4 linked regions of the Homo sapiens genome follow. The protein of the gene in region 4 purifies or fractionates together with the protein of the main gene of each other region. This does not show direct contact. Each region holds a gene or a part of one and is shown on either strand. Other genes may lie near its edges.

Region 1 (7,028 bases), on a different chromosome or scaffold from region 4:
TTCACTTGCCTCTCAAGACTAAAGTATTTTGAATTCAGGATTTTTTTTTTTTTTTTTTTTGAGACAGGGTCTTGCTCTGTAAGTACAGTGGCCCAACCATGGCTCACTGCAACCTGGATCTCCTGGGCTCAAGTGATCCTCCCACCTCAACCTCCTCAGTAGGCGGAACCACAGGTACACATGCCACCACACCCAGCTAAATTTTTTTTGGAGTGACCGGTCTCACGATGTTGCCCAGGCTGGTCTTGAATTCCTTGAGCTCAAACTCTTATTTTAAATTATCCAGGGATAATTTTAAAATGGATAACTTAAAATGGATATTTTAAATGGATAATTTAAAATAAGAGTGCCTTAAAGCTTCCTGATCCTACGGCAAGAAGCAAACGTCTGGGGGGAACACTGGAAACTGAGGTCATCTCTACAGGAACCCAAGTGGATATTTTAAATGGATAATTTAAAATAAGAGTGACTTAAAGCCTCCATTAATCAAGGCAATGATCCTCCTGTATTAGCCTCCCAAAGTGCTGGGATTGTAGGTGTGAGCCACTGCCCCTGGCCAGGAAAATTTTAAATTGTATGATTACACTATGATCCTCTACAGTAAAAAAAAAAATACATTTCAGGGCTATCAAAATATATAAAAGTAACATATGTAAAATACACAGAATAGTGCATGACACTAAAATAGTATTTATTAAGTTCATAAATTTTACTGCATTTTACTTTGACTTTAAATGTACATTTTTCTAATGCCTAATAAATACCTAATCTTACTATCTTCTTTATTTTTAAGGCCAGAAACTGAACTACATACTCAGTTTGACTTTTAGATAAGAGTTTTGGCCAGGCATGATAGCTCAACCCTGTAATCCCAGCACTTTGGGAGGCCAAGGTAGGCAGACTGCTTGAGGTCAGGAGTTCAAGACCAGCCTGGTCATCATGGAGAAACCCCGTCTCTACTAAAAATACAAAAAAATCAGCGGGGCGTGGTGGCGGAGACTATAGTTCCAGCTGCTCAAAAGGCTGAGGCATGAGAACTGCTTGAGCCTGGGAGGTGGAGGGTTCAGTGAGCTGAGAACCTACCACTGTACTCCAGCCTGCGCGACAGAGCAAGACTCCGTCTCAAAAAAAAAAAAAAGTTTTATATTAATCTTTAACCCATGATTCTGATGCTATCTGTAAGTTTATTTGATATATAATGTTTAGTTCATCAATTTAGGTAACTCAAATTCATCAGCTGAGAGAAAAATATTAAGCCCAATGTTAACAAGGAAAGCAGCAGTATTTTTTCCCCCACTCACAGCAGACATGAGAGAGGTCCTTCACACAATTCCCAAGAGTATACTAAAATTTTGATGAAATTTCTCAAAGTTGATGGTACACGTAAAAAGTATCACAAACTTCTCCAGACTGTATTATGAGTATGTGAAGAGTGAAATCAGTTCAATATCTCAAAAATATTCAATTAAAATATCAGTAGTCCAATTTTTAAATTAAATATTTTTTAAGTGAGTCTTGATTATTCCTAGGCAATGTAAAGAAAGCAAGTAGTTTTATAGTTTAAAATTATAATAGAATAACAAATACATAAATACAAAAAATTTACAGAGTAATAATTATGAATATAAACAACAGTAGCACAAGTTGTGCTAATAACATCACCTTAGATTTGGTAACAGAATTATGTGGTCTAAGGTCCATAGCATTATTTTTGCCCAAGGTAGGTGATAAAATACCTTTCATTGCTTTTTTTCTCCTGAGAAACTTATTTTTTGTAAAAGCAAAAAGAAAATAGAAATAGAAATTCAGTTCTCCAAGAATTACAGTAATTCATAGTCATCACCATTATGAAAAATACATCAATAAAAATTTCTCATTATGAAGAGGGCACAAATAAAATACACTACCGGCTTGGTGTGGTGGCTCACGCCTGTAACCCCAGCGCTTTGTGAAGCTGAGATGGGAGGATTACTTGAGGCCAAGAATTCAAGACCAACCTGGGTAACATAGTGAGACTCCATCTCTACAAAAAATTAAAAAATTAGCTGGGTATAGTAGCACATGCCTGTAGTCCCAGCTACTCGGGAGGCTGAGGTGGGAGGATTGCTGAAGCCCAGGTGTTTGAGGCAGCAGTGAACTACGACTGCACCACCACACTCCAGCCTGGGTGATAGAGACCCTGTCTCTAAAAATGAAATAAAGTAAGACTATGGATTATGTACTATGCCCATTAAAACAATGATAAGCTCACCTCTTTCTTCCGTTTTCAAAGTATGTCAAAATTCAAGTAAGTAAAGTGTATTACTACAAAAAATATCCCTCGACCCAACATCCATATATCAACAATCATTAAAACCTACCTTACAAATGATAAAATATTTCACTGATTCTCAACTTTGTGGCCAAAAATTGATAGTGTAGTTATAATTGTATAATTAGCAGAGACTTCAAAACAACTTTAGAACTGTGGTATTTTAATCATAATCTCAATCCCACTATGGGGAAGGAGAAATGAAAGGTTTCCCTAGAATGTTTATAATAGGATTGGTGGAGTAGAAGAAAAGAATAGTTGGGGTGGGGAGCAGCCTGTAATCCCAGCACTTTGTGATACTGAGGTGGGAGGATCGCTTGAGCCTGGGAGTTTGAGACCAGCCTGGGCAACGGCAAGACCCCATCTCTACAAAAATTTAAAAACTAGCTGAGTGTGGTGGCATGTGAGTGTGGTCCCAGCTATTTGGGAGGCTTAGGTGGGAAGATCTCTCGAGCCCCAGAGGTGGAAGCCGCAGTGAGACTTAGTCGCATCACTGCACTCCAACCTGCATGACAGAGTAAGACTTTGTCTCAAAAATACAAAGATAATTGGATTTTATGAAAATCACAGTATCATAATTTTATCATCTTAAAATAAGGATATGCTATACTGAAGGAATTTGATACAGAAAATGTCTGAGAAGGGGTACATATGGAACAAAAAAATATGAGACATTCTCTCAAATGAATTTACGAAAATTCTAAGGTGGCATGTTCCTCCACAAATTATAAATTCTTAGGGAAAAATAACTTTGTTGCCAAAGCTACCAAGTAGATGGTTGCTGTACTGCTTTCAAGCTACAGCACAAGCATGCCTGGAGGGCTAGGCTAGATTATTTCTGAATGAACTTCAATAATAATTCCCACAACACAAACTGAGTACTCATTAAGTTCTTGACACTGTATTAAGTATTGTATATATATCACATGAATGCTCACAGCAAGACTATGAGTTAAATTATTCTCCTTAAAGAGAAGGAAACTGAGGCAGAGAGGTTATATAATTTACTCAAGATAACACAGTAAGTGGTAGACCCCTGATAATCTGGCTTCTAATAACTATCCTAAAATATTGATTACACACTTAACTATGTGCCAGGGACAAAACTCAGTCAATTTGGCTATCATATACTCATATACACTTTCTTTATTCCAAGTGTTTCCTACATGGAAATGAATTTGTCATTATAAATCTTAATAAATCATAATGACACATTCATAAGACAGAACTATGAAATGTATAGTTCAGAAAGTAACTCTTTTTTTTTTTTTTTGAGACACCGTCTCGCTCTGTTGCCCAGGATAGAGTGCACTGGCGTGATCTTGGCTCACTGCAACCTCTGCCTCCCAGGTTCGAGCAATTCTCCTGCCTCAGTCTCCCGAGTAGCTGAGATTACAGGCACCCGCCATCATGCCCAGCTAATTTTTGTATTTTTAGTAGAGATGGTGTTTTCTCACATTGGCCAGGCTGGTCTCGAACTCCTGACCTCAGGTGATCCACCTGCCTAGGCCTCCCAAAATGGTGGGATTACAGGCATGAGCCACCATGCCCAGCCCAGAAATTAACTCTTAAACTAGCATTAAAATACTCAGTGTACAAACCACATAAAACTGCATGAAATCTAAGAATTATTGTTACCAGTCTGTCAAAAGTTTTGGTAAACTTTAAAAGAAACAAAGACAGTAAAATGTCAGAAAATATGAAATACACAATATTTGTCACATCACATAGATCACTGGTAGATAAATAACTATAGTATGATATGGCCAACTAAATAATTTTAAAACTGCTAAATAATACAACTTATTCCCAGAAATAATTCCCAATTAGGTAATCACGCTTCATTAATCATAACTCCCAAGTTCACAAAAGTATGGCAAAGCTAACGCATTCATGCTCTGCTGACAGTGTAAACTCGCTCAAGTCTTTGGGGAGGCAAAAATCTGGCAACTGTAGAAACATTTATATCCTTTGACTAGTAATTCATTTGAGATTAGTATCCTATAGAAACAATTCATAAAAGAAAAAATGCACAGAGATGTTCAATTCAATGTCAAAATAGGCATAAACTGAAAACTATTATTTTCCTGTCAGGCATTTAGAACAAATTTAATACTTATTTTTCAACTATCAAGTAACAATCAAATATCATAAAGGTTATACAACATGGAAAAATACAATGCTATAAAAGTAAAATAAAACTTATTTGATATAATTCTGTAAAAACTGCAATATATATGCACAAACTAGAAGAAAACAAAAATAATGAACACAATTATTTGTTAGTATGGCAAAACAAGTTGATATATAAAAAAATTGTTCCGACACGTTTAATAAATAAAAGCAGGCTGGGTGCAGTGGCTCATGCCTGTAATCCCAGCACTTTGGGAGGCCGAGGTGGGCGGATCACAAGGTCAGAAGATCGAGACCATCCTAGCTAACACGGTGAAACCCCGTCTCTACTAAAAATATTAAAAAATTTGCCGGGCGTGGTGGTGGGTGCCTGTAGTCCCAGCTACTTGGGAGGCTGAGGCAGGAGAATGGCATGAACCTGGGAGGCGGAGCTTGCAGTGAGCCAAGATCGTGCCACTGCACTCCAGCCTGGGCAACAGAGCGAGACTCTGTCTCAAAAAATAAATAAATAAATAAATAAATAAATAAATAAATAAATAAATAAATGCAAGCAAACATACTAGCCCGAACAGTAAAATTAGAAAAACCAAAGCTATAACATTGGAGCAAAGCTAAAAAAATTAGAATGACAAAGGTTTCGGTTCTGCTAGCAAACTAAAGAATATTTAGGGAATATATTTATAAACTTATGGTCAATATTATAGATAAAAATACTATATATTACAAAAATAACCAAAGTCCATATGGTATTTTGCCAATTACAATTATTTCTCCCTGTCTTTCCCTACCAGTCTTGTTGAGAATCTCTGTGGTAATAAGCCACTACTACTGTTGGAAGTATTTTGTATTCCTTGGGTAGAAAGGCAAAAAAGTGGCTGAGAACCACTATCTTTGTTAAGATACAGAATGCAAATATGGGTGAATAGGCAAAGCCCCCAAAACATTGTTTACATCTCTTCTTTACTGTCAATGTCAAAATGCCAAGGAAAAAAAATCAATAAACATACTTAAAAAATGAAAAATGATGCTGGGTGGTGGCTCATGCCTGTAATTCCAACACTTTGGGAGGCCGAGGCAGGTTCGAGACCAGCCTGGCCAACATGGTGAAACCCCGTTTCTATTAAAAATACAAAAATTAGCCAGGTGTGGTGGCGGGCACCTGTAATCCCAGCTACTCAGGAGGCTGAGGCAGGAGAATCACTTGAACCTGGGAGGCAGAGGTTACAATGAGCTGAGAGCGGCACTGCACTCCAGCCTGGGTGACATAGCAACTCCGTCTCAAAAAAAAAAAAAAGAAAAGTGAAAATGAATACACTAGTTTCAAGGTTGCCAACAAGAATAAATTGAAAAGATATATATAATGAATACATATTTATTTATAATTATATAATATGTAACATTAAATACACCTGTAACACAATGTGTAAAAATAGGCCCGGGTGCAGTGGCTCATGCCTGTAATGCCTTAAAAGTGAAAATGAATACACCAGTTTCAAGGTTGTCAAAAAGTCTCAACAAATTGAAAAGACACATATAATGAATACATATTTATTTATATTTATATAATATGTAACATTAAATATATTTATATTATAAAATAATGTGTAAAAATAGGCCTAGTGTAGTGGCTCACGCCTGTAATCCCAACACTTTGAGAGGCCAAGGCGAGTGGATCACTCGAGGCCAGGAAGTCGAGATCAGCCTGGCCAACATGGTGAAACCCCATCTCTACTAAAAATACAAAAATCAGCAGGGAATGGTGGTGCACCCCTGTAATCCTAGTTATTCGGGAGGCTCAGACAGGAGAACCGCTTGAATCCGGGAGGTGGAGATTGCAGTGAGCCAAGACTGCACCACTGCACTCCAGCGTGGAAGCCAGAGGGAGACTCTGTCTCAAAAATAAAATAAGATAAAATACAATTACTGATGGCCTTAAAGATCCACAAATTTCCTTGATTTTCTATGAAACTATCTTATACCTTACTATATAACCTTTTAACCTTGAGAAACATAACAAAGGAAATAAAATGTTCTCTGGGGTTTTCCTTCAAATAGAAATAGGTGAATACTATCCTACTACTTCAACATTAAAACTTACATAAAGAGAACATGCAGCATTTTAGACAAGTTCTTAGCCTTGAGGAACAGGTGTGAGTATGAGATAAACACAGAAATACTAAATTAAACTCCAGATTATAACAATACTAAGTGAATTTTTTGGTTTTTGTTTTGTTTTGAGATGCAGTCTCATTCTGTTGCCCAGGCTAGAGTGCAGTGGCACGATCGGCTCTCACTGCAGCCTCCTGCTCCTAGGTGCTAGCGATTCTCCTGCCTCAGCCTCCCCAGTAGCTGGGATTGCAGGCGCCTACCAACGTGGTTTCACCATGTTGGCCAGGCTGGTCTTGAACTCCTGACCTCAGCTGATCCGCCTGCCTCAGCCTCCCAAAGTGCTGGGATTACAGGCGTGAGCTACCACACCTGGCTAAGGTGGGATTTTTTTTAGGGTACATTTTAATTATACAAAATAACCCAACAGGTGCTATATGCATTGACTTTTATAAAAATCAGTTGAATATTAATTATT
Region 2 (7,028 bases), on a different chromosome or scaffold from region 4:
TCCTCAAGTCTCCTGCCCTACCTCCTCTAACTCAGCAGCAGTGGGACGGGGGGTGAGACGCTCCAGGCGCAAGTGCAGGCGGCCAGATGGGACATCCTCCAGGGTCAGCCACTGTGGAAGTAGGCAGGGTGAAGACTTGGGGATATGCAGACAGGAGAACTTTGAGAATGAAGCTTGGGCAGGATCAGGAGGGGTTGTTGACTCTAATTCAATGCTCACCTCATCAAGGAAGCCACTGTTTAAGACTGTGGTGAGACGCACTTTACACCTGTTGAAGAGAAAGATTAAGACAAAAGCTAGATGGTGAGAACCAAGGAGGCCAGACTCCATGGCCTAAAGAGCCCCAGCCTGTTTTTCACGTAGACTCCTATGCTCTCACCTGCCCAGAAAATCATCCTTGTCCAAGTCCTTGTCAAAGACTTCAACCTCTAGCTCTTGGCCTGGAACTGATGTGACGATCACCTAGTGGGAGAAAATAGTGCAGATGAAAGATTCTCTCCTTTTCCTCTGCAAATGACTGGACCCCCCAGTCAACTGAACCTCAGAGGTTTCTGGACCACTTTTGGGATTGGGGGAAAAATGGGGCAGAACCAGGAGTCACAGCCACTCAATTCTGACCTCAAAAACCTCATTCCAGCGGGGATTGAGATCTTCCCGAACAACATGGCTCCGGAAGCTTCGTCCTGCCAACTTTAGTTTGACATAGGGGTCTGACTTGCCCTTCACCAGTCCCCCCAAGAAACGGTCTTTGGCAATCAGGTCCTGGGCCTCTAATACATGGATCCGAAGCACATGCTGCAAAAGGGACGGGGGGGTGCCAGATGGCAAAGGGAGAGAGACCTGTCAGAATCTGCCCTGAAACAGGCTTTGCATACTTAGCGGGGCAAACAGACCCTAGTCCTTTCCAGATATAGACTCACCTCAGTCCCAAACTGGCTATCAGGAGTCGTGTGACAGGGTCGAGGTGGGGCATCCACACTGCTGCCTCTCTGGGGATTCTCACTGTCCACGTCCCAAGCACCAGGACAACCAGGCACCGTGGGGAAGCATATTTCTGATGAATCCAAGTACAGGATCTAGGAAGGGTAGTATGATGCTGAATCAAAGAAGTGCAGCTCGTCACCAGCAGGCAAAGCATGTGGGGTGGGGTAGAGGAGGGGCTGTGACAGGGGAACTAGGTGCTGCCCTGGCTGGGCTCATCTCTACAGGGTTCCCTCCACACCCCCTCAACTCATAAGCCATTCCTTCCACCAGTCAGATCAATATATGTTTTTGTGCCTGCTTGGCACTTCTACATGTATTAGCTCTTTTAATCTTAGGGGGGTCCCTTTCCTTACTCTTAATACCAAAGAATCAACAGGCCTTTCCCCCACACCTCAGTACCTCCTCTATTTCCATACCCTCATGACTAGTTTCATATAGAGTCTGGAGTTTGGACCAGAGCTGCTGAGCTGGAACCACTGGTCCAGGATGAGTTCTGGGGCAGTCAGCAGGCGGGCCAGAGGCAGCGTCAGTGCTCCTAAAGTCAGGGCCCTGGAATCATCCTTCACCTACAGGCACAGGAGGAAGGACTGTAGTGAAGGGATTAGGGGAAAGGGAGGCATACTGTGAAAATGATAACATGGCTCCAACTTCATTCCTCTCTGTACCAATCACAAACCTCCTGCTCCACTCAGGGCCATCTTTTTTTTTTTTTTTTTTTTGAGACAGAGTCTCACTCTGTCGCCCATGCTGGAGTGCAATGGCGCCATCTTGGCTCACTGCAACTTCGACCTCCTGGGTTCAACCCATTCTCCTACCTCAGCCTCCCAAATAGCTGGGACTACAGGCGCATGCCGTCACGCCCAGCTAAATTTTTGTATTTTTTAGTAGAGACAGGGTTTCATGGTGTTCCCCAGGCTGGTCTCAAACTCCTGAGCTCAGGCAATCCGCCCACCTCGGCCAGAGCCATCTTTTATAGTCCTCTGCCCAATCCATGGCCCCTTCCACCTTTGTTCATTCTGCTCCCACTATTTGGAAAGTCCTCATTCTCTTCCCTCGGCCTATTTAAATCCTACTCATCCTTCAAGACTCAATTAAAATCCAATTTTTTGCTTCACAAAATCTCCCTAGTTACTCCAGCCTATCCCTTTCTCTGACCCTCCTTAGTCCTATACTATGGATATTTTACTCCCACAAATTCATATGTAATTGTTGCTATTCTTCTGTTCCTTTTTTTTTTTTTTTTTTTTTTGGAGACAGAGTCTTGCTCTGTCACCCAGGCTAGAGTGCAGTGCTTGAAATCAGCTCACTACAACTTCTACCTCCCGGGTTCAAATGATTCTTCTGCCTCAGCCTCCCAAGTAGCTGGGATTACTGACACATGCCACCACACCTGGCAAATTTTTGATTTTTTTTTTTTTTTTGAGACGGAGTCTCACTCTGTCACCCAGGCTGGAGTGCAGTGACGCTATCTTGGCTCACTGCAACCTCCGCCTCCCGGACTCAAGCAATTCTACCTCAGCCTCCCAAGTAGCTGGGATTACAGGCACGCACCACCATGCCTGGCTAATTTTTGTATTTTTAGTAGAGATAGGGTTTCACCATGCTGACCAGGCTATTCTCAAACTCCTGACCTCAGGTGATCCACCTGCCTTGGCCTCCCAAAGTGCTAGGATTACAGGTGTGAGCCACCATGCCTGGCCTTAGTTCATATGTACTTGTTCTTGAATGATTTTATATGTGTATGTCTTGTCTATGAAACTGAAACTGGCCAGTGAGTATTGTGAAGGCAGATACTATGTTTTGTGCTTTTTCTATGACCTTTAAAATGCTGAATGTTGGGCCGGGCACGGTGGCTCACGCCTGTAATCCAAGCACTTTGGGAGGCTGAGACGGGCGGATCACCTGAGGTTGGGAGTTCGAGACCAGCCTGACCAACATGGAGAAACCCCGTCTCTACTAAAAATACAAAAAAAATTAGCCAGGCATGGTGGCACATCCCTGTAATCCCAGCTACTCAGGAGGCTGAGGCAGGAGAATCACTTGAACCCAGGAGGTGGAGGTTGCGGTGAGCCGAGACCACGCCATTGCACTCCAGCCTGGGCAACAAAAGCGAAACTGTCTCAAAAAAAAAAAATGCTGAATGTTAGCAATTTTATTGAGGCATAATTTACATACCATAAAATCACTCATTTTAGGTACCGTGCCCAGCCTCAGAATAATTTTTGTATACCTAAAATGAGTGATTCTATGGTATGTAAATTATGCCTCAATAAAATTGTTAACATTCAGCATTTTAAAGGTCATGGAGAAAGCACGAAACATAGCATCTGCTTTCACAATGCTTACTGGCCAGTTTCATAGACAAGACACACATATATAAAATCATTCAAGAACAAGTACCTATGAACTAAGGCCAGGTGCAGTGGCTCATGCCTATAATCCCAGCACTTTGGGAGGCTGAGGCAGGCGGATCATCTGAGGTCAGGAGTTCGAGACCAGCCTGGCCAGCATGGTGAAACCCTGTCTCTACTAAAAATACAAAAATTAGCCGGGCATGGTGGTGCCTGCCTGTAATCCCAGCTACTCGGGAGGCTGAGGCAGGAGAATTGCTTGAACCCAGGTGGTGGAGGTTTCGGTAAGCCGAGATCGCACCACTGCACCCCAGCCTGGGCAACAGAGCGAGACTCCATCTCAAAAAAAAAAAAAAATATTATTCTGGAGCGACAGTTGGGGAACAATGGAGAGATATTCAGGGAGGTGGGGAGTCTAGGTAGATGGATTAAAAATAGGAATCAAGGGAAAAGAAGGAGAGGAGAAATGGTACAGATCTGGGAAGTCAGAATAGGGTATTCGGGAGGGGATGAAGAGGTGATTATCTCACTTGCACATCGAGCTCCTGGCTTTGAGGGTCTTGTAGGAAGAACCGGAACGCTTCCTCCCACACTGGGCAGTTGGTACTGTAGACAGCCTGGAGATGTAGAGGAGGGATTAAGGGTGTATACCACAGCACCATTCCTGTTTCTGCAGAAAACCCCTGCATGTAACAGGCATTCTAAAGGGGAAACCATCCCAAGAATAGGCCTCTCCCTGTCCTACCTGGCCACCCACAATGATGTCCTGGCCCTCACCTTGCTCTCCTGAGTCACATCCTGAATTGACAGTTGTACCATAGGGTTGGGTTCCTTGTTCCCCTTCTTCAGCTGTGGTGGGTACAATTCAGAGGTCACCATCTTGGGGGATTCGGTTTTGGTTTTGGTGAAGGAAGGTGGGATCGCATCAGAATCCTTTCCCTGAGATGGATCTGATCCCCTCCCTGGGACCCTTATGTTACATGCTGATACTTCTGGAGCAAAGCAGGCAGGGACATTTGCATCCTCAGCAAGGCAGGGTTGGGGAATGTTACATCCAGGGCTCCTGTTCACCCAGCCAAACTCACAGGAAGATCCTGGGCCCGATCCAGGTAGACAACTAAGATGGCAGCTGACGGGGGATCTGGTCGAGAGGAGACTCCCCAATTCCACTGTAGAACCTGGGGAGGGGTGGTAGTAGTCAGATCTTGGTCCCCGTTCCAAGTCCCCTACACTTCCAGCTACCTATTTCTCCCCTGCCAGCTTCCTATTTCCCATGTGGCTTACCTGCTCCAGTTTCTCTGCATCTGACAAAAGTGACAGCCATTCTAGCCTCAAGTGAACTTGGCCTTGCCCACCTTGTAGAGGGAACCACTAGAAGAAATTGAGATGTAGTAGAGATCAGATACCTGCTCAACTACTTCCCTACCAATGTAGCAACTACTATCTACCCAAAGGGTGAGATCAGCCCCCACCTTCCTCTTCTCCCAACTTACATCATCCAGAACGCTAGCCTGTAACACCTTCCCTACATCCAGCTTCATTCTGAGGGTTGGCGGGGGAGAGGGTAGTGAAAGGAAGAAAAGGGTAGTGTTGTAATTAGCAGCATGTCAGTGGCCCTCCACTCACCCACCCAGAAATGACTGGCAGATCTCAGACTCCCTTATTCCTCTCAGAAGATATTCACCTGCATGCGTGAGTATGTGCATGGTAGGGGCTGGGGGTGGGGAGGTTAGGAAGGAAAATGATACATGATTCCCAGGCCCAGAAAGTGAGTATAATTACCTCCAGAACCTCGGTAGCATGGGCTTTATTTTTTTTATTTTTATTTTTTTTCTTTAGAGACAGAGTCTCGCTCTGTCGCCCAGGCTGGAGTGCAGTGGCGCGATCTCGGCTCACTGCAAACTCCTCCTCCCGGGTTCACCCACCATTCTCCTGCCTCAGCCTCCCGAGTAGCTGGGAGTACAGGCGCCCGCCACCACACCCGGCTAATTTTTGTATTTTTAGTAGAGATGGGGTTTCACCGTGTTAGCCAGGATGGTCTCAATCTCCTGACCTCGTGATCCGCCCGCCTCAGCCTCCCAAAGTGCTGGGATTACAGGCATGAGCCACCGTGCCTGGCCAGCATGGGCTTTAGAATCCTAACAGGCAGAGTCTCACCTGCCCAGAAAGTCATCTTTATCTGGATCCTTGTCGAACACCTCCACTTCAATCTCCTGCCCTGGGACCTCGTGTACCATCACCTGGGGAACACAGAAGGCTGAGTGTCTCATGGGGCTGCAGCTGTGAGGATCATCCAATCAGCATCTTCTCTCACAACCTCCTGGGGCTTCCCCATTTCACAGAGCTGCTCAACTCTCCCACCTCATAAGTCTCTCCCCACTGTGGGTTGAGTTCTTCATCAATGACACGACTGCAGAATGTCTGGGTACCCAAACGCACAAGTGCATATGGGTCTGACTTGCCCTCAATCAGGCCCTTCACATATTTGTCCTTGGAACTCAGCCCTCGAGCAGCCAGCAGGTGAATTCGAATAATGCCCTGGAGGAAGGAATCAGATGGTGAGAAACTAAGGACCCAGCAAGGGGTTCCTGAGAGAAGGATCTATCTAGTGGGGGAAAGGCCATACCCTGGGCAGAGGGGAACGCAACTGAGCCACATCTTGAAGGTCAGGCACAAGGGGCACCAGTAATCGGTTGGGCAACACGAGGAAGGCAGCAATGGAGTCCATGATCATGGTGTCAGAGAGTGAGCTGAATGGGGGAGTAGAAAGGAGTGGGTATGGCCTCAACTTCCAATTTTCTCCTAACCCCAACTATGTTTCCCACACCCAAGAGAGACCTAAAGCTGTAAGAAAGTCCTTTTGTGAAAATCCTTTGTGCTACTCTTCTACCCTAATTCCCCACCTACTGCTCTCTCCCTTCTTCACTGCCATCCCCATTGCCTTTTGCAGTCTTCAGCCCTCTGCATTCCCTTCCTGCTCCCCCAACCCAAAGAAAAATCACAGTATCAAACTTTGCAGGGGTATTTGTCTTTGCTCCCCAAATGAAGTTGAGGCTCCTAGAGGACACAAGCAGCATCTTTGACTGCTCTGTGTCCCTTAAACCCCCAACCCAGCGCTGGAACACTCAGCAGGTGCTCAGTAAGTCCTTGATACCTAAGTCCTGGGATATCCAGCAGGTTGGTCATCCCTGTCCAGTTGATGTCTAGGGTCTGGAGGGAAAGAGCAGGGGTCAGGACAGATCCTATGGGGTGTGGTCATACCCATCAAACAGTTGCCAGAACCCCTCGGCCTTCTTGTCAGTTCCCTTCTCATTCCCCTTCACTGGCTGCCCTCATCCTCCCAGTCCTCTGTTTCTCCTGCTTCCCCATACCCCTTCATTGTTTTCCCTTACCGGGCGTCGGATGAAGAACATTGACACAGCCCCCACGAAGGGAAGGTCCCCAATGAGTGGCTCCAGTATCACCCGCAAAACGCCATGTAGCTGAGGCAAGAAGAGAAAATCAAAGCCTTTCCCCAGAAAAGTCCCTCTTCTGTCCTCCCAGACTTTCTCAGCCTTGGTCTTTCCAACCTCACACTTCCCCATATCCCATGAAACGCAGGACAAACATTCCCTATTATGTGGCCCCTGACATCTGGCCTACCTGCATGCCCTTGACTCCTGCTTTGCAAAAATATTTCTTCACTTCCACATC
Region 3 (7,028 bases), on a different chromosome or scaffold from region 4:
AGGTCAGGAGATCGAGACCATCCTGGCTAACACTGTGAAACCCCATCTCTACTAAAAATACAAAAAATTAGCCGGGCCTGGTGGTGGGTGCCTGTAGTCCCAGCTGCTTGGGAGGCTGAGGCAGGAGAATGGCGTGAACCCGAGAGTCGGAGGTTGCAGTGAGCCGAGATCGCGCCACTGCACTCCAGCCTGGGCGACAGAGTGAGACTCTGTCTCAAAAAAAAAAACAACAACAACAAACACAAAAAAATCTCAGAATGTTTTAAGAAAGTTTACGAATTTGTGTTGGGCTGCATTCAAAGCTGTCCCCAGCCACATGCAGCCTGCAGGCCATGGGTTGGACAAGCTTGCTTTAGACAGAGATAACCAGAGCAAGCAGATGACCACCATGTCAGCAAATGACTGTAAGCAACTGTGGTTCCTACTGAAAAATGAGTCTATTCTGCAGCTTTCTACAGACCTCCAAACATGTTTTATTCCATGTTTAAAATCATAGCTAGTTTTCCAAGAGCATATCTGAATTCCTAGAAAAGAAAGGTAGTTTTTAGGACTGTCATCTTCCCTTTATCTTTCTCAATGTGCACAAAAGCAATCTTAATTCCAGGAGATCCTATACTTTTAAAGATACTAGATGAATCAGTATTTGACCATGGTCTGCTGTTCGGGTCACTACAAGCCAGATTACCAGGCATTCAAACCAGTAGATTAAGCTTAAAATGCATCCAACATTCACTTCCTATATAACTGGTTTAGACCATGCAGGGAGCCTGAGAATGCTTCTGGATTTCTTGAGTTATCTGATTTAATTCACCAACTGGTGAATTTCTCCATTTTCAATCATGGCCTGTTGTCTGTTTGCTGTTCCTGGTAGCCTCTTTGGCAGTAGAATGACCGGAGGAGCCCAAGGTAAGGGGTGTGGCCGAAGAGTGATACTGAGACCCCCCGGCCGCAAAATCTTGGAGTGCTATACCAGCTAGGTACTAGTGGCCTTGGCTGTTGCCTTTCTGCCTCTCAGCACCTCCGCAATTTTATTTTATGTGATTTGGGTTAATCTAGGTGTTAATAGAGGGGAACTGTTTGCTTAGTTAGAGGACAGTTTATGAATTTTGTGCACTTCTTTTGTGTGTTTTGAATATTTAGATTGTTAGAAACATAGAGTATATTAAAGGCCCTGATTTTGCCCTGTCATATAAGAGAAAAAATTCAAAGAGGTGGAAGTTTTTGTTTGAGTACATTCAATACAATAGAAGTAGAATGAGGACTAACACCTAGATGTCCTGATGTTTAGCCCAGCAGTCCCCTCCCTCCTTTTCTGTCCAATCTGAGTTCTGTTCTGTGACTTTCATTTTGTAGATTGTTACATCCACATTTGTTTTCACTTGGAGGAGGAGTGAAGAAATATGAGAACAGTCCCATTTACATAGAAAAGTGTCATACCACTTTTGTGTCCTAATAGATAATATTTAAAGCTTTTATCAGTCATTTTCTATATTTACAATTTTTTTAAAACTATGATAAAAATTTCCCTTCTCTATAATGGCTACATAAGAAAGAAAGTATACTCATTTGTAGCAGGCATACTTGCACAGCATTTCATCCACCTCTTTGTAAAGACCAGAGGGCTTTGTCTTCTCTCCAGTAGGTCTTTAGAACAAAATAACAACTTGGGCTCTCATTAGAACTGGTTAATGTGCTGTATAGGCCATCCTAAGTGTTGGTATCACAGCATACCCAATGTCCAAGTTGCCATAGTAGGGCATGCTACAGCTTCATGAGAAATGCTTAGTCAGTTGGGTTTTTAAGGGCTCTTTTACAGCATCTACAGGCCCCTCTACAGAAGTCCCTTGGGTTTTATTTTAGCTGAGGCTCATTTTTCCTTCTCACTCCAAGACTGACCCATTCTTTGACCTCAGATAAAACACAGCTTCTCTTCAGCTCAGCCTCAGGGCACAGTGCTGTCCATAGTTGCAACTAAGCTTAATAAAAGAGCTTTGTTACTGAGGAGAAGAGATTCTGTAAAAGCCTTAATATTCGATGGATAGCAAAAGTGAATGGTAGAGAATGTTAGCTCTTTTCATGTTGACTGGCACAGCGTTTTCTATGTCTCTTCTCTGGAGAGAACAGAGTGATCCTCTCATGATGGATTTCTCTTTTGTTACAGATGACAAACCAAAGGAACAACTGCAGAGGAGTCTCCCTAAAGCAACTGAGACAGACTGCAATGACAAATGCTCACACAACACCGAGGTCGGGGAGACGCGGAGCAGTACTCCAGAAATGCCTGCCGTGTCTGCGTTCTTTAGCCTCGCTGCGCTGGCTGAAGTGGCAGCCATGGAAAATGTGCACAGGTTAGTGGTAGAAGGTGGAAGGAGAAAGCAACATGGAAACCAGATCAACCTCTTTGATGTGATTTGTGACATTTTTTACAGGGCATTGGGGTTCAAACTTGGTTCAAGAGCACTATTGGTTATATGAGGTATTACAAAAGCATATATGCTAATTAGCAGTGCGGGAAAATACCAGGGAATATAGTCAGCCAAGTATTTTATTTTGAATATGTTATCCTGTGGCTAAACTTCATTTCCGTAAAAAGCCTGAGAGCAGGGAAGCAGTATTATCTGACCAATGAGCTTTGGAGTCCCATTGCAGACTGAGGTTTGAGTCCTAGCTCCATCACCTGCAAACCGAAAGATCTTGACCAAGATTATTAACCTCTCTACCCTTGGTTTTTTTCCTCTAAAAAAACAGGGGCAGGTGGCACTCATTTCACAGAGATGTTATGTGGGGTAACTCTAGCATCCCAGTGCTGGTGTGTGGAATGCCCCTTATTGGTGATGGTGTTGGTGCCATCACCAGCCATCAGAAGACAGTGCAGTTCAAGGGAAAGAGCATTTTGGCATCTGACTCATGGCAGCCAGAGGCCTGGATTTTTCTTCAACTCTTCTGTGATTTCCTACAAAGTAATTTTTTTCTCTGGACTTTAGTTTTCTCAGCACACATTGAGCATAGTGATATCGCCAAAGAATTACGAAGTTGTAAGCATCAGACGAGATCATAGATGTGAAAACCCTTTGAACTCAGCGAAGCCCCACAGAAAGTATATTAAGTTCTAAGTGTATAATTGGGTATTCTGCTACTTAATGGATCCTTTGGGAAGGCAAAAAAGCCTGTTGTAAATTCAGGTATTTTATATTCCTATTCAAAGTGGATTACCCATGGATGAGCTGCTTTCTTAGACTTTCAGTCTTCAGTACAAAAGAGCTCTCAACCCAGTGCAGCTTGTGTAGCCAGCTGTAGGCCCCATGCTCCTTTTTGACATCCAGGTAAACCTGGAGTCCCCTGACGTGAGCTTGGTTTGCTTCTTGCTATTTACCTGTCATATTACAGTTTGAGTACTTCCTCACAAATAGCCTCTAGATATTTCCAAGAAGTCAAATTCCTCTTTATGTGTACACTGCAAGTTCCTAATAGCAAGTGAATGCTCACAGACATTGTTAAAATTCAGTGAGGTCTCTGAGGGAGACAATGCACAGATACTTCTCCATTTGTGGAGTTGTGCAGTCAAGGATAGAGGACAAGCACATACACGTGCAGTGAGAACTTAAAATATCTGCCTGAATGTTATTAAGTGTCCCTGTGAATTGTGGAAATAAGAGGGAATCTGAGAATTGAGAGAGGGATAATAATTCAAGGGTAGGAAAAGGCTAGCACATAAGCAGCTTGGCTGCTGCCTGTGTTCTAAGCGTGGTCACACCGTTGCTCTGTTAACCAGCCCTCCATGGTTCCCAATTTGCATCAGCAGAAAGCCACAGCAAACCTTTCCAATCTCATTGTCTCTGCCCTCCACACTCCCTACCCTGCAGTTAGGTGGAATCACTTACCCCTTTCCAGATACGCCAAGCTCTTGCCTTGTACATCCTCTGATCAGGTGAACTGCTCTCCTTCTCCCCACCCTAGTCCCCGGTCCTCTTCTCTCAGTCCTCCTGATGCCCTAGGCTGTGTGTTTCTTGTTGCTCCTGCATGCTATGCTCACACCTCTCTCAGACCACATTGGGATGTATTGATTTGTCGATACTTCTGTCTACTTTCAGTATATTTTGAAAGCAAAACAGTGGTTTTATTCTCTATGTTACCAGCTTGCTTAGTTCCTGTTATAACAATTGATAAATGAACAAATGAGTGGGTGAATGAATAAATGAGGTAGTTTCTGAAGTATGACTGCCTAAGTTAGATAACAGGTATAGAAAAAATAATGTGAGTAAAGATTCTTTTTATTTTTTTTAACCTTCCATTAGAAAGAACAGTAATGATTACTAGAATTTTACCATCAACCTAATAAATGGTTAGTGTTCTTAATAGCTAGAAGGACAGATCACCCTGGAGAGTCTTAGCTGTAACTTGAGCCCCTACCTGTTAAAGCAGATCTACCCACCAGGCTTCTACCTGTAGGCTCACTGTTATTGAACCTGGGTTGCATACCAATGAAGTAAGCATTACTTCAGCATCAACTCGGTTCATAGTTTAAAGGGTGGCCCATGGAGTTAGGGGTGGAAATATACGACCTGCACTCATGCCATGAAAAAATCTAACGTTAGGTTCAGAAACCTAACTTAGACAGTTTTACAAAATACACAAAATAGAGAGTTGGAACAAACCTTTGTTAAGAGACCAGTTTATTTACTAGAAGTTAAATTAGCCCTCCCAAGTGGGCCTTTTTAGTCCCATTTTAATGACCGTTAATTAACTTGCCAAGAGCACACAGCCAATTTGTGCCCAAGTCAAGATTTGAACTCCTTATCTCGCGTACTGCCAAAGGAAAGCTTCAGTCATGTCAGAGAAAATCATGAAGAATCTCACCTGACCCTTCCTCTGGGAGCTAGAATCATCAGTTGCAGCACATAGTCCTCTCCCACTGTGATTCTGACTTCTTTCCTTTTTCCATTGATTTAGCTGGACTTTCACCCCAATTTCTCTCTCCTTCTTGCCATCTTTTTTTACATTGCACTTTTCATCTTTTTTGTTTTTTTTTTTCCTTTTCTAATACTTATTAAAATTCTTTTGGGTCTTTTAATATCTTAAAAGTAAAAAGTAGCATTTTAATTTCATCTTTCTTGAACAAAGAGCTGAACATATTGAACAGGTGGTATCTATAACATCCACATGTGAATAGCTTAATCCAGAGGTTTGATTCTAAAATGTTTTGCTTTTCTAAAATCCTAAATATCTTGGGCTATTAAGTGATCATTTGATTCTGAAACCCCCAAATGTTGCAATTTGTCTACATTATTTTTCTTTTTTGTGCATCAAGAGAAACTTGAGTATAGTTATAGAGCAGGTACAAGCTAAATCTTGAAATAGCTCCTTTTGTTCTATGTACTCTGAAGAAGATACGATTTTGAAAGGTCATCCCAATGAAAACATTGCTGATACATCACATATTTTCAGCACAGTGTTATGCACTACAGACCATTGTAGGTTACAGAGCAGTGAGTGTGCATTTTCTAGGATTGGTAGGCCTGTTGGAAAATGTCAAGGAAGTACCCAGTCCTATCTTTTTAGAATGAGAAGCTCTGTAGAAATTACCAAGAATTTTGGACAGTTTTCTCATAACCATGAAGTAAATTGTATTTTTACTACTAATTATACAAAAGCTGAATGAAAAATCAGCTATGTTTGGCATAGGTTCTATCCAAATGATGAAAATTTCCATGAATTTTCTAGTCCTGTCTGGAGTTCTCCCTCCATGTGTATTGATTTTCACCCAACTAGGGTAGATTTTGTTAAAATCTAAAATCCAGCATCAGTGCTTGTTTTCTTCCTCTAAACACTCTCTGTCCATGTGCATGTGAGTTCAGAGGGTTTTATTGTTTCTTCATTCCTTTTTTTTTTTTTGGAGTCACAGTCCATCTCTGTTTCTCTTCCAGAGTCATTGCTTTTATTATCACTAAATTACCTGAAGGTTACCAATTACTATAGGAGAACTTTCCCTTCAGGCAAGTCAAGAAAAGGAATGTGTCATTTTTAATACCAATGGATCAACAGGAAAATTATTGTCCAAGAACCCCAGTCCTTGATTGAAATTTTCCCACTTCTTAAAGAGTTGCCCCAAATCTGTTGGTACTTAAAATTTCATCTCTTCAAAATGGAAGTGGTTAGTTGTTTGAGGCCAGAGGGTATGCTGTTGAGTTGTATGAGGGGAATTCAGATATAAAATCTTAGGAAGGGAGACAGAATGGGAAGGAGGAAGGGGAAAAAAAGGATAAGGAAGGGGACAGAAGAGAAAAAACTCTAAAGCAAAAACAGTTTTCATTAAATGATGTAAGTAACAGCAGTAACTGTTAAACAAGATATTGGAACACACTTGTTATTCATCGTCCTCTCCTGTCTCTAATAACATATGCTGAATAAGTGACTTTTTCTTCCTTTTATTTTACAGAGGTCAGAGGTCAACTCCGCTCACCCATGATGGACAGCCAAAAGAAATGCCGCAGGCTCCTGTACTTATTTCCTGCGCTGACCAGTGAAGCGCCCTTTCATTGTAAAACATTGTGCTTTACCTACTACCCTAGCCTTGTCTTTACCGAGGGATGCTAGTGAGTCCAAGTGGTGGAAAATATAGACTGCAAACAAGTGCTTGTTGCCCCACACGGCCCAGATTCACTTGAAGCAGAAGTTAGCATCCTGGGCCAGTTTGTTCTCTCAGAACCCAGAATCTTTGAGGGTAAGGTTATCTGTCTGATACTGAGCAGAAACAGAATGATCCTGGAGCTTTGCTTTCTATTGAAGGCTTTTGACGGTAATAGGTGGTAACTTGGTAAAAGGCTGCCTTTACTGTAGCTCACCCAGCATCTCTTTTACCAACCAGAGAGTGTGAAACTAGTTTCATATATTACCTAGTTATTCTTTCAAAACAAAACAAAAAAAAAACAAAAACTGACGCACTGCACTAGTTATTATTAGATATTCTTAGTCTTTTTTGTACATGGAGATTTAAGTTTAAGATGGTTTATATAATAGGTTATACCTAC
Region 4 (7,028 bases):
GCCACATAGGTAATAAGCCATGATTCAAACCTAGGTAATTGGTCACAGAAGCCACGTGTTTAACCACCTCTATGCTAGACTGCCTCTCCCAGGTGATACTGTTTTCTGCTCAGAACATGACACATAATTATCTAGTCTGATTAGTTTCAGGGAAACATCCTTATAACCTTTCCCAACATTTTTTCTGCTTTTCTACTTTTCTTCCTTCTTACATCATACTATCATGTCCTTAGGAAATTCAATCTCTTTGCCATACTTTGTACTTATAATTTTTATATTCTCCCCTTTTCATCAAATAATTGGTTCTACAAGAAAAAATAGTTTTTATGATAAATAGGTATGACTTTTCCTCTATTTCTTTGGGTTGAATATTGGGTGGGAGGGTTGTATGTTTTTGTGTATGATATTATAAATGAACTCTTAGTCCTACAAGAGGGAGAAAACTTATAGTTTAGGCCCAAGGAGTCAAAAAAAAAAGTCATTTTTTTCTCTTCTCAACCATGTGTACTCCTTTGGCTACTTTTACTTTATTCTCAGAAGGTCTAGAGGAGTTGAGAGTACCTTGACCTAGAACACACAGATGGGATTGGTATTCATCATGTAAGTTTAGGGTCTGTTGGGTAAGATGGCTCCACATAGGGGTTAAATAAGTTTCCTACTCAGAGATGGCCAGCACAGTATAAAGACGCACACTTACAACATCATAGTAGGCAAAGATTTTCTCAAAGTCCCTTTTCCTTTCTTCAGTAGAACAAGCCTGTGTAAGGAAAAAACATTATGTCAGTCCAGCAATGTGACAATTCAGCTGTACAATTCTTCCAGAGTCCTGGGCAAATTTTGTAAACTTTGAGTCAATGACCTTTAAGATCCCTTGATTCCATGCTGATCCTTGTCTGTTTTCTAAATAAGTTAAAAAGTAGGGCAAATAGATGCCTTCCTTTCTTCTTTCCTGCTCAAATCCGTAGAGAAACAGCAATGACATAAACCCATCTAGAGAAATGTCACTACTTACATCCATTTTAAATTGGAGAAGGAAGTTTTCCTGAAGAGCCAGAATCCTAAATAGAAAAAAAAAAAAATCCACGTAAGGATCGTTCAGCTCTCAGTTATACGAAAACTTATAGCCCTGGTGTGTGGAAAGTACAGGCAATTTCCTGCAGAACAGAATAGGTACTTGAAAGACAGAACTTCCTACATCACAGAAACAAAGAAATTAATTGGGAAAAACTCGTAGAGATTAGTAGTCACCATAGACTTTTAAAAGTTCATCTTAGTGGAAAATGGCACAGTATGGGCTTCTGGAAATTCGCTCCTCCATAAAACTGGAAAAAATAGTCAAAATAACTTTCCCAGAGCTCTGGAAAATAATTAAAGTCTTGCAGCAATCTGGGGAGTGTTTATTCTGAAAAAAATCTTTTTTTTTTTTTTGAGACAGAATCTCTCTCTGTCGCCCAGGCTGGAGTGCAGTGGTGCGATCTCGCCTCTCTGCAAGCTCCGCCTCCCAGGTTCACACCATTCTCCTGCCTCAGCCTCCCAAGTAGCTGGGACTACAGGCGCCCGCCACCAGTCCCGGCTAATTTTTTTGTATTTTTAGTAGAGACGGGGTTTCACCGTGTTAGCCAGGATGGTCTCGATCTCCTGACCTCGTGATCCGCCGGGCTCGGCCTCCCAAAGTGCGGGGATTACAGGCGTGAGCCACGGCACCGGGCCTCCAAAACAGCTGAATCTTGGTTAGAACAATGACTGTCGTAGCATTTAACTTGCCCTAACACATACACAGAGCCCGTTAGCAAGAGACTGGGAGACTTACTGGTTCAAGACATTTTAGAAAATCTCTGTCCAATTATGAACTGACCATTGAACTAACCTAGCAGAGACTTCAGTGGACACACCTGACAAAGAATATAGACTTCATAGAATTAGTTCAGAAAAGTCACCAAATAAACAACAAAAGTCATCAATACACCAGAAACATGACCTATAAGAAATACTAAAGGGAGTCCTTCAGGCTGAAATTAAAGGACACTAGACATTAACTTAAATCCACATGAAACAATAAAGAGCACCAGGAGCGGTAAATATATAACCAAATATAAAACACAGCATAAATGTATTTTTTGTGTGTAACTTTTTTGCTTTCTGATTTAAATGACAATTTCATAAAACAATAACTAAAAATCTATGTTGTGGAGCACACAATATATAAAGATAAAATTTTAACAACAGAAAGGAGGAGAAAGGCATTTGAACTATACAGAAGTAAAATTTGGGGTATAATATTGAAATTAAATTGTTATTAATCCACAATTAGATTTGATATAAATTAAGATGTTAATTGTAATCTAGCAGACAACCACTAAGAAAATAACTCAAAAAAAATGCAAAACAAATAATAAGGGAATTAAAATAGTACACTGGAAAATGTCTGTTGAACGTGCAGGAGGCAGTAATGGAAGGACAGAAGAATTTTAAAAAAGCTTAAGACAAAGAGAAACAAATAGCAAATATAAATCCTACCTTCTCAGTAATCACGTTAAATATACACATATTAAATACTCCATTAAAAGCAGAGATTGGCAGAATAGAAAGAAGTAAAACTATCTCTTTATAGATGATACAATATTGTATATAGAAAATCCTAAGGAATCCAACAAAAAACTACTAGAGCTAATACACAAATCCAGCATGTTGGCAGAATACCAGATTAATATAAAAAATTCAATGACATTTCTATACATTAACAATGGGCAGTCCAAAAGTGGAATTCAGAATACTAATCGTTTCATGATAGCATCAAAAAGAATAAAATATTTAATAAATTTAACAAAAGTGGTTTAGTTTGTAGACCGAAAACTACAAAACATTGTTGAAAGAAATTAAAGAGCTAAGTAAATGAAAAGACATCCCATGTTCATACACTGGGAGACTTAATATTTTTAAGGAGACAACACTTCCCAAATTGATCTGCAGATTCAAAACAATCCCCATCAAAATCTGAATTGGTTTTTTTGCAGAAATTGACAATCTGGTCCTAAAATTAATGTGAATATGCAAATGAACCAGGATAGCCAAAACAATCTTGAAAAAGAGGAACAAAGTTTGAGGACTCACATTTTTTATTTCAAAATTTGCCTGCAAATCTACAGAATCAAGATAGTGTGATATTGGCATAAGGACAGATATGTAGATAAATGGAATAGAATTGAGAGTACAGAAATAAACCCATACATATGGCCAGTTTATTTTCAGAAAGGGTGCCAAGACCATTCAGTAAGGAAAAATATTCAAGAAATGGTGTTGGGACAAGTAGATATCTACATGCAAAATAATGAAATTGTGCCCCCACCTTACACTGTATTAAACAATTAACATGAAAAGGATTTACATAAAACAGAAACTTTATAGTTTATATAACTCTTAGAAGGAAACAAACGGGTAAATCTTCATGAGCTTGGATTTTGGCAATGGCTTCCTAGATATGACATCTAAAACACAAACAACCAAAAAAATTAGACAAATTGGACTTCATGAGAATTAAAAACATTTGTGCTTCAAAGGACATCATCAAGAAAATGAAAACACGACTCTCATAATGGAAAAAAGTTTTTGCTGATTATACATCTGATAAGTGTCTAGTGCACAGAATATATACAGGACTCTTATAGTTCAACAACAAAAGGACAAATCGCCCAATTTTTCAACTGGGCAAAGAATCTGAACAGACATTTCTCCAAAGAAGACATACAAATTGCCAATAAAACATAAAAAATGTTCGAAATGCAAATCACAATGACATACTACTTCACACCCACTAGGATGATTATAATTAAAAGAAAGATGCAAACAATAACAAGTGCTGATTAGAATATGGAGAAATTAAAATCCTGATACATTGTTGGTGGGAATGTAAAATGGTGCAGCCACTTTAGAAAACACTTTGGCAGTACCTCAGAAAATTAAATGTAAAATTACGACACGAACCAAAAATTCTGCTCCTTAATATATAACCAAGAGAATCACAAACGTATATTTGTCCCAAAACATGTAGCAACGTTATTCATAATCTCTAAAAAGTGAAAACAACTCAAATGAACATCAGCTGATGAATGGACAAAATGTGGTATGTACATACAAGGGACTATTATTCAGCCATAAAAAGGGATAAAGTTACAACATGAATGAACCTTGAAAACATTACTCCAAGTGAAATAGCCAGATAGGAAAGGCACATATTGTGTGATTCCATTTATATAAAATGCCCAAAATAGGAAAGTCGATAGAAATAGAAAGTAGATTGGTGGTTGCCAGGGCCTTGTGGGAGGAGGAAGAGAGGAGTGACTGCTGATGTGTACTGGGTATCCTTCTGGCATAATGAAATGTTCTAAAATTAGATATTGGTGATGGTTGGACAACCTTATGAATATCTTAAAATCTACCAAATTGTAGATTGGTAGATCTGACTTTAAAAGGGTAAACTTTAAGGTACATAAATTATGTCTCAATTTTAAAATAATCTTGTTTTTGTTTTAGAAAGCAAATATGTCTGCCTCTTTTCTGTATAATTATAATTATAATTATACTTTAATAGAATACAGTCAGTTTCAGTAAATTCAACATTAGATTTATGTTGTATTCATAGTCATGAGGATATATAGAAAAAGTAGAAAAAATGTAATACAACTATGTGGAAAATCTTTGCTCCTCCAAATGCTCAGAGTAGAGGGAATTAATTTGAGCCAATTAGAAGACAGAATATCCTGGAGGTCTGCCAGGAATATTGTTCTTAGTATTTGCAGGCACCAGGCAGCCTAAATCATGTTGCCAGTCACAGCACATATTACTTGGGAGGTGCTTTTATGTAGAGGAATTGAACTGCATTTCACAGCTGAAAGTAGAGAGAGAAAAATCCTATCTGGAAATGTTTTAAGGCCTCTTTGTTGTTGTATTAGTTTCCTAGTGCTGCTGCGACACACTGCCACAAACATAGTGGCTTCAAATAACCATAATCATTTACAGCACTAGAAGCTGAAGTCTGAAATCGATCTCACTGGGCAAAATTCAAGCTGTCGACACGGCCTCATTCCTTCTGGAGGTTCTCGGGGAGAATCCTTTCCCTTGCCTTTTTCAGGTTCTAGAGGCTGCCTACATTCTTTAGCCTCTTCTTCCACTTTAAAGCCAGCAACTAGCATTTTCAAATCTCTCCGTGACTCTGACCTTCTGCCTCCCTCTTCCATATTTAAAGGATCTTTGTTATTATATTGGGCCCAATGTGGATAATCCAGAATAATCTCTATTTTAAAGTCTATTGATTAGCAAACTTAATTAGATCTGCAACTTTAATTCATTCTTGCCATGTAACATAAAATAGTCACCAGTTCTGGATATTAGGATGTGGATATCTTTTTTTTCCTTTCTTTTTTTGAGATAGAATCTTGCTCAGTCACCTAACTAGAGTACTGTGACGCAATCTTGGCTCACTGCAAACTCTGCCTCCTGAGTTCAAGCGATTCTCCTGCCTGAGCCTCTTGAAGAGCTGGAACTACAGGCATGCACCACCACACCCAGCTAATTTTATTTTATTTTATTTTTTGTATTTTTAGTAGACACAGGGTTTCACTATGCTGGCCAGGCTGGCCTCAAACTCTGACCTCAAGTGATGCACCTGCCTCGGCCTCCCACAGTGCTGGGATTACAAGTGTGAGCCACTGCACCCAGCCTAAGACGTGGACATCTTTATTCTGCTTACCACAGTTCACATTTTCAAATTCCGTATCAAACTGGTTTTGAAATACACTTGGCACCCCCTATCTGTGGGTTCTTCAGGGCCAATTGTGGGACTTGAACATCCGAGGATTTGGGTATCTGGTATCCGCGGAGGTTCTGGAACCAATCCCCAGAGGATACTTAGGGAAGACTGTACTATACTAACTGATTTTGCTGCCTTTCATCTCTGTTCAGTGCTACTGTAACTCCATCAATTCACAACTACTCATTGAATCCCCCCAAGTACACAACACTCCACCAAGTGAGAAGTTATTCAAGGGATTAGAGCATAGTCCCTGCCCTACCAGCAGGACCATAGCAAACCCGCCTCTACAGAGTGTTTAGACTCATGCAGAAGGCCCTATTAGTTATCACAGTGATAAAGGGGGCACAACTAGCATTTTGTACATAGGGCTAGGGATATTAGGTTTCTGGCATTGCATGGAAATTTCTGCAGAATGAAGAATTGCCCCATGTCTCACTTGAATTTCAAATGTCCAGGGGGCAATCGTGACTGTAAAAACCCTGCTTTTAATTATTTGTGCTTGGAACTGAATTCTTATTTGCATAAAACTCAAGGTTTGCATAATTTACTACTTACATAAATTTTCCACATGGTATATGAATTGTGTTAAGAGATTAACATACTTTGTCTCATTTGGAACTCTGTCAAGACTTATTATTTCATAAAATCATATCAACAGCACCTGAGTTACCAAAATGTCACAATTGTATCAGTCGGCATCTGAGCTGCCCCATTTATGATAATTCTACCCAGGTGAAAGCATCTGACCACTTCACTATATCTTCACTATGATTGTATGCAAGCACTTATACACTGAAATGTGCATTATTTTATCATTAACTGCTTTCCTTTTATTTCTCCTTTATATGTTACAGTCTGTGCATGATGTTAGTTATTTTAGCATTGTATACATAGGTAGGTCATATTGTGTATGGACTAAGAGGGCAGAGAGCAGCTGCTCTGAGCCCTTTATTACCCCAGCCTCCCAGGGCACACAGGGCTCCTCAACTCTCACTACCTCTGAGACGTGCACAACTGAGTCAGGGCACAGGTGGATAGATGCTTTTGGTGAAGGGAACCATGAGATTGCAAGCTTTTGTTTTCATCTAGATTGTCATCTATTGAATGAATCCTTTGGTGGCTTTGGGATTGGCTCTTTCACATAGCTCTCTGACCTCTACTTGAGAGGAACCCTGCCTCCATTGACCAAGAGAACCAGGTGGGATCCAGGGAGCAGAGG

Evidence for each region.
Region 1: the proteins of SCGN (region 4) and ATF2 purify together in Homo sapiens (affinity purification with mass spectrometry; 3 studies listed by BioGRID and IntAct, with this or other methods). This does not show direct contact.
Region 2: the proteins of SCGN (region 4) and ESYT1 purify together in Homo sapiens (affinity purification with mass spectrometry; 3 studies listed by BioGRID and IntAct, with this or other methods). This does not show direct contact.
Region 3: the proteins of SCGN (region 4) and BBX purify together in Homo sapiens (affinity purification with mass spectrometry; 3 studies listed by BioGRID and IntAct, with this or other methods). This does not show direct contact.

What each region holds. Positions count from the first base shown.
Region 1 is NC_000002.12:175,158,195-175,165,222, forward strand, and holds part of ATF2 (cyclic AMP-dependent transcription factor ATF-2), read right to left. Parts: intron 1-7,028. UniProt on the Homo sapiens protein: Transcriptional activator which regulates the transcription of various genes, including those involved in anti-apoptosis, cell growth, and DNA damage response.
Region 2 is NC_000012.12:56,131,266-56,138,293, reverse strand, and holds part of ESYT1 (extended synaptotagmin-1), read right to left. Parts: coding exon 6,978-7,028; intron 6,818-6,977; coding exon 6,728-6,817; intron 6,546-6,727; coding exon 6,490-6,545; intron 6,086-6,489; coding exon 5,962-6,085; intron 5,874-5,961; coding exon 5,697-5,873; intron 5,576-5,696; coding exon 5,493-5,575; intron 4,878-5,492; coding exon 4,829-4,877; intron 4,707-4,828; coding exon 4,620-4,706; intron 4,514-4,619; coding exon 4,421-4,513; intron 4,215-4,420; coding exon of another isoform or gene 4,185-4,214; coding exon 4,113-4,184; intron 3,953-4,112; coding exon 3,866-3,952; intron 1,551-3,865; coding exon 1,401-1,550; intron 1,077-1,400; coding exon 921-1,076; intron 796-920; coding exon 619-795; intron 463-618; coding exon 380-462; intron 269-379; coding exon 220-268; intron 112-219; coding exon 22-111; intron 1-21. UniProt on the Homo sapiens protein: Binds calcium (via the C2 domains) and translocates to sites of contact between the endoplasmic reticulum and the cell membrane in response to increased cytosolic calcium levels.
Region 3 is NC_000003.12:107,798,934-107,805,961, forward strand, and holds part of BBX (HMG box transcription factor BBX), read left to right. Parts: intron 1-2,161; coding exon 2,162-2,348; intron 2,349-6,436; coding exon 6,437-6,524; coding exon of another isoform or gene 6,525-6,594; 3' UTR 6,595-7,028. UniProt on the Homo sapiens protein: Transcription factor that is necessary for cell cycle progression from G1 to S phase.
Region 4 is NC_000006.12:25,683,202-25,690,229, reverse strand, and holds part of SCGN (secretagogin), read right to left. Parts: intron 1,059-7,028; coding exon 1,013-1,058; intron 758-1,012; coding exon 698-757; intron 1-697.